Regions from separate parts of the Homo sapiens genome. Here regions 1, 2 and 4 are each linked to region 3. The links come from fine-mapping of genetic effects on gene expression. A gene starts in region 3. Each other region holds a variant in brackets. All regions are shown on one strand. Distances are from middle to middle.

Region 1 (2,689 bases), 140 kb after region 3:
GCCTGGTTGGTTCTTGCTGTCAGGAAGCTAGGAGTCTTGTGTAGGAGAAAGACAATAAGAAAAAAGTTCGCAAAAAATACATAAAATTACCAACTGTGATAGATGCTTTGGAAAGAAGGTACATGGTGCTGTGACTATATAACATGACAAAGTGACCTAGACCAGTGCATCTCTAACTATGTGTGCTGAAAGACCACTTTTCCCTTCAATCTGCCCTGGACTGATACTAGCATACAAATTGTGCTACATGTGACTGACCACGTGATTTTGACAACACCTGAATTGCTCTTTGCCCTGTTCAACAAGGGGAGTCTACTGACCATGTGCTTGGATGTCATGGTAATTTTAAAACACTGTAGAACTTTCTAAATGCTTATTTCTTAATTTTAATATTTATCACATTGGAAACAATTTGTAGATTGGCACCGAAGTATGGATTGCACTTTGAGCTGCTCCAACCTAGACTGTTGAATCAAGAAAGTCTTCCTGGAGGAAATGATTTTTGCATAGTGTTCTGTGATGAATCTGTGATCACTATGACCATCATAGATCACCGTGATCTATATTGAAGGGCAAATAGGCAAAATCGAGATGGGAAGGAGAATTCCAGGTAAAGAGAATCCAGGAGAAGAGGAGTGTGGCTGGAACATGCAGATGAGTGGAAGATTAGTGAAGATGAGTTTGAAGGGAAATGCCAGGCCAGGCCTATGTTATCTTTGTGTTTTCTCCATGGCAAGGGACAGGTTTTGGAAGTTTTTAAGCAGTGTGATTTTTATCAGATTCTAAGTGCTAAGATCACCTTGCTGCAGTATGGACAATACACTAGATGTTGTGTCAGTCTGTTTAGGCAGTTATAACAAAATACCACAGACTGGCTGGCTTATAGACAACATTTATTTCTTACAGTTCTGGAGGCTGTGAAGTCCAAGATCAAGGCACTGGCAAATTCGGTGTCTGGTGAGGGCTGGCTTTATGGTTCATAGATGTGGCCTTCTCGCTGCAACCTCAGGGCTCTCTTTGGGGCCTCTTTTATAAGGGCACTAATCCCAATCATGAGGGTGCCACTCTCACTACCTCATCACCTCCCAAAGGCCCCAATACTATCCTAATACTATCACCTTAAGGGTTAGAATTTCAACATATGAATTTTTGTGGGACACAAATATTCAGACCATAGCAGGAGAATAAAAGTGAAAGTAGGGAAACCAGTGAGTAGACTATTGCAGCAGTGGATGTGTAAGAAGTGGGAGATTGAGGCTGGGTACAGTGGCTCATGCCTATAATCCCAGCACTTTGGGAGG[C/T]GAAGGCAGGTGGGTTGCTTGAGCCCAGGAGTTAGAGACCAGCCTGGGCAACATGGAGAAACCCTGTGTCTACTACAAATACAAAAATTAGCCAGGCGTGATTGCACCTCCCTGTGGTCCCAGATGGTTGGGAGGCTGGGGTGGGAGGATCGCTTGAGCCCAGAAAGTCAAGGCTGCAGTGAGCTGAGGTTGCAGCACTGGAAGTGGGAGATTGAGATTGAGGACGTAGGGTAGGATTTCCGGTGGAATGGATACGGGGTTGAAGGAGTGGGAAAGATCAAAGAGGACTCTTCTGGTAGCTAATCATCCCAATATTCCACTCTAATGCAGACAAGGAATACTGCTCCCTTTCTGATCAGGACCAAAGGAGTCCCTTTATTCCTAAGGAAGTTTCCTGGCAGGGAATGGAAGTCCATTTCCCAAGTCCTTCAGAGGCTCTGCCAATACTTTTAGATGTGCTTCACAACTGCCAATCTTTCTCCAATTAACGTTCCATTTATGGAACTAAATGACTTCCCCTTTGAATATAAATTCTCCTCTATAACGTTTCCTCAGTTTTTTTCTTTAAAACCTTATTCTAGAAAATATTAATAGGCACTCAATGAAAAAGGAGTCTCATCAAAGAACATATTCAGGAAATACTGAGCTAAACAAGAGTCATACTGGTTTTTTCTTCAGTGCGTGACTTTTCAGAGCACTTAATATGTTAATGTGCATCTTCAGTTTCCAAGAGGGGAGAAACAAAATACAGCGTTTCCAGAACTTACTTAGTTATGGGTTCCTTTTTGCCAAGATCATCTACTAGGCTAGTGTTCTATGAAACCTTCTTTGGGAAAGGATGCTGCCTGGTGACTAGAGCAGTCCTGTGTTCAGCACTGGAAGCTTGGTTCTGCTTCACATATTTTGAGACAAGCAGATGTGTTCATTGGTTTGTCACAGGACAATCTAGTTCCATTCCCTAAGGCACTTTTACTGAAAGGCTGAGTCAGTTTTTTGCAATCAGGCACAACACTCCCTGTACCTGACTGAGCTTGCAATTCTAGCTCTGTGATGAGCGTCGCTGTTCTAGCTCTAAGTGTTGGCCTGGGGGCAGCATCCTGTGTCTGTCAGGGGGCAATGTGCCCCACTCAGGCAATACATGGGAAAGGAGGACCTGGAGTACTGCCGTGATGGACTTAAGTGACGTTGGTGTAAGAGCAGTCCATTTTCCATTTAAGCTGACTGGGAAACAGCAGCAGTTACAAATGACAGCTATGTCTGCAGAGGCTGACTTTCTCTTCATCCTCCCTTCTTTCTGGCTTTTGAGGGTAACCAGGGGAGCAGCAAAGAACAGTGTTTTCTTTATCTCGTAAATGGGTGTCATTCTTCAGCAGGTGTTACAGATCCGG
Region 2 (2,689 bases), 24 kb before region 3:
CATTATGAAGTCACTATTAATTATTTGCTATTGTCAATCTCAAGCTGATAAATCAAAATAGTACTGGAGCCAAGGGATATGGAATACTTTTGCTCTTTTTTTTTTTAAATCTTCAATTGTGAAGCAAGTATAAAATCCAAATCTGACATATAATTGCATCTATTCTCTGATGGAAGATACAGTAAATGACATTGTGGATTTGGATTATTCCTGCTTTATAACTAACCCCGACATAGTGCCCAGAGTGCAAAAATCAAAGGGAACTGATTCTCCTTATGCAATATTGCAGGGTTGTAGTAGCCTTTTGACAAGGGTACTAGGTGATACTCACAGACCCAGAATGAGAAAATTCGGGTTCTCTTGGAACTGATACTGGCACTCTGGGATGTGTGAAAAAGTGGGACTGATGTTTTCAAATATATTTTGAAAATGTTTAACTGTGATGAGGATAGACTTCAAAATACTTCATAAAGAAATGGAATTAGAGAGGGACCTTTAAAGATGGGTAGGACTGCAGAAAAAGGAGCTCTGGCAGGGCCAGAAGAAAAAGGATACTTCTTGATTTTGCTTTCAGACCAATGTTTTCAAATATTTTAATTGCTTGCATACCCTTAACAGTTAAAAATAATTGAGTGCCTTCCCCAAGATATGATGTTTAATTTATTTGTAAATTGTAGACATATATTATCATTCTAACAAAGTATGTACACATACAAAATAGAATTAAAAAATAAATATAAACAAAAATTCATACATTTTCTTGCTAAACCTCAGTGGATAGTCTTGAGCAACCCCTGGAGTACACCTTCCATGTCCCCTTCTCTCTCTCTCTCTCACACACACACACACACACACACAGAGTGCACCACTGGTCTAGACTCAACTGGTACAAGTAGGCCTGGCCTTACTTTTAAAAACATGAGTCCCCTGACTGGCAACAATCTTAATGCATTTAACTTCTAGAAACATGATAAAGGAACATTTGAAAAAATCACTATGTTTATTCAGGAATAATGTTTCTAGAGAGATTGTGTCCAATGGTGAACAAGAATTTCCCTGGTATCTAAACTATTGGTTGCATTGTGAAGTATTATGCTTAAAACAGAATTAAACCCAGTTTGAGAGGAGTCAACAAAACAGACTTAAGTATTTGCAAGAATTTAATACAAGTTTAGTATAAAGTTTAAACTTTTATTGCATAAAGTGGGTATTATGTGTAAAAATTCCTTGATTATTTACTTTAAAAATCATTTTTGGTTAGCTCCGTAGAACAACTGAGTTTAAAAGTATGTATTTTGGCATATATTAGATTGTGTAACATTGTCACAACATATTCACTTGAGTATTTTATAAAATATAAGCAAAAAAGGCACATTTACATGTATCAATAAAAATGACATTTATATTAATTAAATGTTTAAGTCAAATAATCAGGCACAGATACTTTTAAATTAGGGGTTTACCAGCCTGGGCAACATGGGCAAGAGATGCTGCTCAACTCTACAAAAAAAAAAAAAAGTAGCTGGGCATGGTGGCACATGTCTATGGACCCAGCTACTCAGGAGGCTGCGGTGGGGGGATCACTTGAGCCTGGGAAGTCCAGGCTGCAGTGAGCAGTGTTTGTGCCACTGCACTCCAGCTTGGGCAGCAGAGTGAGACTCTGTCTC[GA/G]AAAAAAAAATTGGGGGTGTTTTATTTTAAAATCAAGAAATTTCCTTTTTTTTTTTTTCTGGCCCCACCAGGGCTCCTCTTTCTGCTCTCCTACCCATCCTTAAAAGTCCCTCTCTAATTCCATTTACTTATCAAGTATTTTAAGTCTATCCTCACCACAGTCAGACCTAGTCATTTATCTGCAGTTTACATATTGCACGTTGCGGCACTTTCCACCATCAGTCTGATAATAATAACAGCTACTTTGTCCAAGATCATAGTTTGTAAATGGTAGCTAAGAAGAGCTCCACTCTGTCTGACATCAAAGTCAATAGCCCTCTTCCATATTGCATTTTGTAAGTTATAACAACTAGACAGCGATCTGCAAAGGGTTGGGATAGTATCAATAGTATCATGACATCTAGCACAGCACTGTGTACAAAATGGGTAATCACAAATGTTAGTTAATTTGAAATGATAAATGCAAAACAGTTACTTTGTGGGTTTCTTTCTACATCACATATCATCAAGCAAAAACAGTTACTTTGAACATACATATTGAAATTATGTATATTAATATAAATTTAATAGGTCATTTTATTGGCCCTTAAAATTCATATGTTCTTTAAACATAGCTTTGTGTTTTTTTAAGGAAAGGAATATGGGAAGCAAACCAGTGGACTATAATAATGTGTTATTCTGAAGTAAAATATTAGAAAGCAAGATAATATAATACTATTTAAGTTGGAAAATTCCACTGAAAAGAAAATAATTTTTTTACAGTTTCACTGTGTTGCCCAGTCTGGAGTGCAGTGGTTTGATCTCAGCTCACTGCAACCTCCGCCTCCCAGGTTCCAGTGATTCTCCTGCCTCGGCCTCCTAAGTAGCTGAGACTACAGGTGTGCAGCACCATGCCAGGATAATTTTTGTATTTTTTAGTAGAGACGAGGTTTCACCATGCTGGCCAATCTGGTCCTGAACTCCTGGCCTCATGCGATCCGCCCACCTCGGCCTCCCAAAGTGCTGGGATTACAGGCATGAG
Region 3 (2,689 bases):
AATTTTTGTATTTTTAGTAGAGATGGGGTTTCACCATATTGGCCAGGCTGGTCTCGAACTCCTGATGCCCTGATCTGCCCGCCTCGGCCTCCCAAAGTGGTGGGGTTACAGGCATGAGCCACCGCACCCGGCCTTTATATTACATACATTCAAGTAGAAGGATACATGAGAGCAGATCAGAGGTATGTGTGAAATTTAAACACATATTATGAGGCTAAACCAAGTTTCATCTGTTTTATTAACTCCTATTGCCTGACTTTGAAGTACTCAGTAATAGTTGATGAATACAGAAAACAATGGTAAAGGTCAGGTAGATTTGATCGGATTTGAGTTATGTGTTAGTAGAGAGCTATTTAAAGGTTTGTTGTTGTTTTTAACAGGAGTATCAAGTGAGATTGATTTTTCATCTCTTCACCAGGCTCTCTGTTCTTTTAGAAAGGCCTGTCAGCTAGCTCCATCCCTAACACTTTCAGGGATGTTGACCCCTAGCTGGCAAAACTTGTGTTTAAAATCCCAAATATTAAGCAGATGAAAAACTTGGATACTAAATACTTTCATAACTCATCTCCACGAATTTGTACGTCTGAGGGAGCAATACACAGCTGCAGGTCCATCAAGGCCACAAAAGCTAACTACAGAGATAGTCTTTTAGCTATTTTGAAATCAGTAGGGCCTGACTACAGCCATCTGTCGCATACCCATTACTCTTACTAAGGTCCTGCTGGCGTCAGAGAGGTGGTTCTACGATGCACGGTAGGAGTGTGTCTGGCCAGAGAAGTGGGGAGGCTCAGCTGCCTTGGGAGGTGCAAGTAGTAGCGCTAGGAAGCTGCTGCTAGGCCTCTGGCAAGAACACCAACTGATCCGCAATGCGCCTGGCCAAACTGCAGCAGCCTGCTCTGCAAATACTGCATAACAGAAAAAGCCTGTATTGGAGAATATAAGAATCCGCGGCAGAAACGGAGTGCGCGACGATTCTAAGGTTTTTACCCAGCACGGCTCCCCCATCAGACTGCAAATCCCAGCATTCACTCCTTCCACGGGAGCCAATGAGGAAGCTACTAGTTCCCGCAGCCAATCACATTCTGAGCCAGTGTATCACCCGACTGAATTCTGGGATTTGTGGTTTTTACGTGGCAACATTACACCACGGTGGCTACGGCAATGCAGGCCACGCGTCTGATCCCAAACGACACCTCCCTGTTATAAATTCTTATGTTGGTTCCGCAAGCTAACTCCTTAACTGTCGTTACTCCCAGGCTTCCTCCTTCTCAAAGCTCGTAATCTTTTTCTCTTAATGTCATTAAACAATCAAGTTATTTTCAGATTAAGGCCCACTTGCTCCACTCGTCCCCTGTCCCTTAACCGTCGCTTTAGAGTCTCGCGAGAACAGCCCCTTTTTTTTGTGTTGTCATGCCTCCAAAAGGCGGGTCACATGAAAACTGACACAGGCTTCAGCCAACCGAATTGTTTTTTAACTCTCTTCTCCACAGCGTGCGTGGGGAGGCCTCCGTGAACTCTGACCTTAGCTTTCCGTAGCGCCCGCGTCTGCCGCCCCCGCCCCCGGAGCGAAGGAGGCGGGCTTTGGCCTTTTGCCCTAGGGAGCGAGTGCGGAGCGAGTGGGAGCGAGACGGCCCTGAGTGGAAGTGTCTGGCTCCCCGTAGAGGCCCTTCTGTACGCCCCGCCGCCCATGAGCTCGTTCTCACGCGAACAGCGCCGTCGTTAGGCTGGCTCTGTAGCCTCGGCTTACCCCGGGACAGGCCCACGCCTCGCCAGGGAGGGGGCAGCCCGTCGAGGCGCCTCCCTAGTCAGCGTCGGCGTCGCGCTGCGACCCTGGAAGCGGGAGCCGCCGCGAGCGAGAGGAGGAGCTCCAGTGGCGGCGGCGGCGGCGGCAGCGGCAGCGGGCAGCAGCTCCAGCAGCGCCAGCAGGCGGGATCGAGGCCGTCAACATGGCGAGCGCCTCGTACCACATTTCCAATTTGCTGGAAAAAATGACATCCAGCGACAAGGACTTTAGGTGAGGCCGAGATCCGACCCTCACCCCACCTCGGGGTTCTCGCAGCCGCGGCCCTGGCCGTCACGCAGGCCTTGCCCCACCCCTTCGGCCGTAGCCGGTAGCTTCTCTGCCCCGAAGTCTCCAGCCCACCGGTCCGCTGGCCTCCCGATCCCTGCGGAGCCCCTTTCCTCTCCCCTCTTGCAACCCCCTCCCCCCATTCTTTCTCCTAGGCAGTTGCCCGCCGCGGTCTCTAGGCCCCGTTTGCTTGTCTCAGCGCCCCCACATCCTTCCCTGCCCCACCAGGAGGCGATTCTTGCGTCTCAGGTAGCGCGAAGGGGCTAAACCACCCACCATTGTGGAGAAGGGAGTTGCTCTAGGCCGGGAGACCGGGCGCCGGGCCTATTCGCTTGCCATCCTGCGGCGCTAGGCCGCCTTGCTCGCTGGGGCCCAAGCTGCTGCCCACTCGGGGACCCGGCAGCCTCCTCTCTGCCCGCAGGTGCGCGTGGGCCTTGCTGCATTCAGGTGGAATGATGAACTTTTGCGCTCTTGGCTGATACATAGTTCTTTTGTGGATTATTAATTTTCGTGAAGGTGGGAAGAAGGGGGAGGGGAGCCAGGATGGAGGAAACTTCGCTCATAGGGTTTTCCCGCCAGCATCACTGTCAGTTCCTCTTGTCAGGTAAAACCAACTTAGGA
Region 4 (2,689 bases), 59 kb after region 3:
TTGCTCCTCTTCTTGACTAAGATCTTGGGTCTTTTCTCTTTATCTACATTCACTCCCTAGGGGACTCATCAACTCAGCAGTATAGAATTAAATACCATCTATACTGACAACTCTCAATATCTCCAATCAGAACTTCTCACCTGAACTTAAGCCCTGTATATACAACTATAGCTACTTAACATCTCTACTTGGTTGTCTAAGTAGCTTCCCAAACTTGACAGATCCAGAACTGAACTCCTGACTCTCTACCTCATAAATTCTCTGCCTGTAGTGCTCTTCACTGTAGTAATAGCCTCATCCTTCCAGCTACTCAATCCAAAAGGCTGCAAGTCATTCTTGATTCCTCCTTTTCTTTCACAGACCATATACAATCTATTAGGAAATCCTGTTTGTTCTGCTTTCAAAATGTGTCTGTGGCTCTGATCCCCTCTCAGCATTTCTATACTACCAGTCTAGTGTAGTTTATCATAATCTCTGGCTTGCCTGGGTTGCTGTAATAGTCTCCCAACTATCCTTGATGCTTCCTCACTTGCTCTCCTCCAATCTAATCTCAAAAGAGCAATCAGTGGTCCTATAAGAAAGTAAATCTCATTACACCATTCCATAGCTCAAAAGCCTCCACTGGCCTTCCATTTAACTCAGAAAATGCCACACACCTTATTACATACAGCCTACATGGCCCTTCATGATATAATAACCCTCGTTGCTTCTCTCACTGCATCTCTAGCTACTTTATCCCTTGTTCACTCCGCTAAAGCTACCCTAGCCTCCTTGCTGTTGATTGATCATGCCAGGTGCATGACATTTACATTGGCTCTTCCTTCTGCCTGGAACACTGTCCCCAGAGTGCTGTGTCAATGCCAGATATCCACATGGCTCACTCCTTCTGCTTTTTCAAGTGTCTGCCTAAATGTCACCAATCCTGCCTTTCTCAATCTCTATTACCCTTTTGTTTCCATACAATAACATTTATCACCTTTAAATGTACAATATAACCTATGGATCATATGTTCCTTAACTGTCTCCTGGCATAGAACATAAGTTCCATGTGAGCAGGGATTTTGTCTGTTGATTTATTATCTCACTAATGTATAATAAGCACATGGTATATACATAAATGATTGAATAAATGAATAAATAACTTCCATATTTCAAGATATTCCAGGTGGTGGTGCCAAGCATGTAATGTTTGGAAATAATGATTTTTAGTGTCAGGAACATTGTGATAGCTCCACTTAAGGCTGCTGTTTTTACATGGAGAAATTTTTAATTATTAATTACTCTTTTGAATCAGTATTATAAGCATGGTAGAAAATTCAATATATTTTTAAAGGTATATATTAAAAAGCAAATATCGGCCGGGCGC[G/A]GTGGCTCACGGCTGTAATCACAGCACTTTGGGAGGCTGAGGCAGCCGGATCACTTGAGGTCAGGAATTCGAGACCAGCCTGGTCAACATGGTGAAATCCCATCTCTACTAAAAATACAAAAATTAGCCAGGCATGGTGGCACACGCCTGTAGTCCCAGCTGCTTGGGAGGCTGAGGCAGTAGAATCGCTTGAGCCCAGGAGGCGGAGGTTGCAGTGAACCGAGATCACGCCACAGCACTCCAGCCTAGGTGACAGAGTGAAACTTTGTCTCAAAAAAAAAAAAAAAAAAAAAAGCTCCTAGAGTCTCTTCTTTGAGGCATTGCTCTTAAGTTTCTTGTGTAGTATCCCACAAACTGTTTAAGCATATATGAACATATTTGTAGGCATTCTTTTTTTACCCAAATGGTAGCATACTGCCCCTGCCCCTTTTTTCTTCATTTAACAATATAGCTTGGAGAACCTTCCATGTTAGTGGAAATAAAAATGTTTCATTCTTTTAAAGTGCTCCTTAATATTCTGTTGTACAAATTTCTCATAATTTATGTAGGGAGTTCTATATTGAAGTTGTTTCCAACATATTACTATTTCAAACAATGCTACAATGAAGATTCTTGTACTATTGACATGAAGACATTTTGATGTGATCAAAACAAACCAAAAAGAATGAAAAGAAAACATTTTTATTTATTTATTTATTTTTATTTTAGATTCAGGGGGTACATGTGCAGGTGTGTCACATGGATATATTGCATGATGCTGTGAGCTTCACTTGAACCTGTCACCCGGGCAGTGAACATAGTATCCAATAGGTAATTTTTTGCCTTTTGTCCCCCTCCCTCCTCTCTCCTTTTGGAGTCACTGGTGTCTATTGTTCCCATCTTTATGTCCGTGTATAGCCAATGTTTGGCTCCCACTTATAAGTGAGCATATTTGGTTGGCTTAATTTGTTAATTTCCTTAGGATAATGGCCTCCAGCGGCGTCTGTGTTGCTGCAAAGGACATTATTTTGCTCTTTTTTATGGCTGTGTAGTATTCTATGGTGTATATGTACCACAGTTTCTTAATCCAACTCACTATTAATGGACACCTGAGTTTACCCTATGTCTTTGCTATTGTGAATAGTACTGTCATAAACATTTGAGTGCAGGTGTCTTTTTGGTAAAATGATTTATTTGCCTTTGGGAATATACCTACTAGTGTGATCACTAGGTCACATAGTAATTCATGGTAATTCTTTGTGGTTCTTTGAGAAATCTCCAAACTGCTAAGAAAACATATTTTAACTTTAGGTTAAAATTTTTTTTTAATTATTAACTAATTTG

What was found. PIP is the estimated chance that this variant, and not a neighbour inherited with it, causes the effect. A credible set is the group of variants that fine-mapping cannot tell apart.
Region 1: its variant is the best candidate, but not a certain one, in a credible set for the expression of CAND1 in aorta (GTEx, PIP 0.54).
Region 2: its variant is the best candidate, but not a certain one, in a credible set for the expression of CAND1 in whole blood (TOPMed, PIP 0.59).
Region 4: its variant is the best candidate, but not a certain one, in a credible set for the expression of CAND1 in stomach (GTEx, PIP 0.87).

What each region holds. Positions count from the first base shown.
Region 1 is chr12:67,411,486-67,414,174 of GRCh38, forward strand. The region is part of intron 1 of LOC105369812 (a long non-coding RNA gene); the gene reads left to right. Among named protein-coding and RNA genes, the nearest start is that of LINC02420, 30 kb to the right of the region's middle. The variant C/T (reference allele first, on the strand shown) is at 1,302.
Region 2 is chr12:67,243,910-67,246,598 of GRCh38, forward strand. No RefSeq gene overlaps it. Among named protein-coding and RNA genes, the nearest start is that of CAND1, 24 kb to the right of the region's middle. The variant GA/G (reference allele first, on the strand shown) is at 1,668.
Region 3 is chr12:67,267,772-67,270,460 of GRCh38, forward strand. CAND1 (cullin associated and neddylation dissociated 1) reads left to right here and starts at 1,587. Exons shown (of 15, transcript NM_018448.5): 1 at 1,587-2,014. The coding sequence starts at 1,947. RefSeq lists enhancers at 723-1,022, 1,163-1,422, 1,702-2,353.
Region 4 is chr12:67,326,866-67,329,554 of GRCh38, forward strand. It overlaps LOC124902957 (a long non-coding RNA gene), which reads left to right and starts at 1,656. Exons shown (of 2, transcript XR_007063354.1): 1 at 1,656-2,176. The variant G/A (reference allele first, on the strand shown) is at 1,367.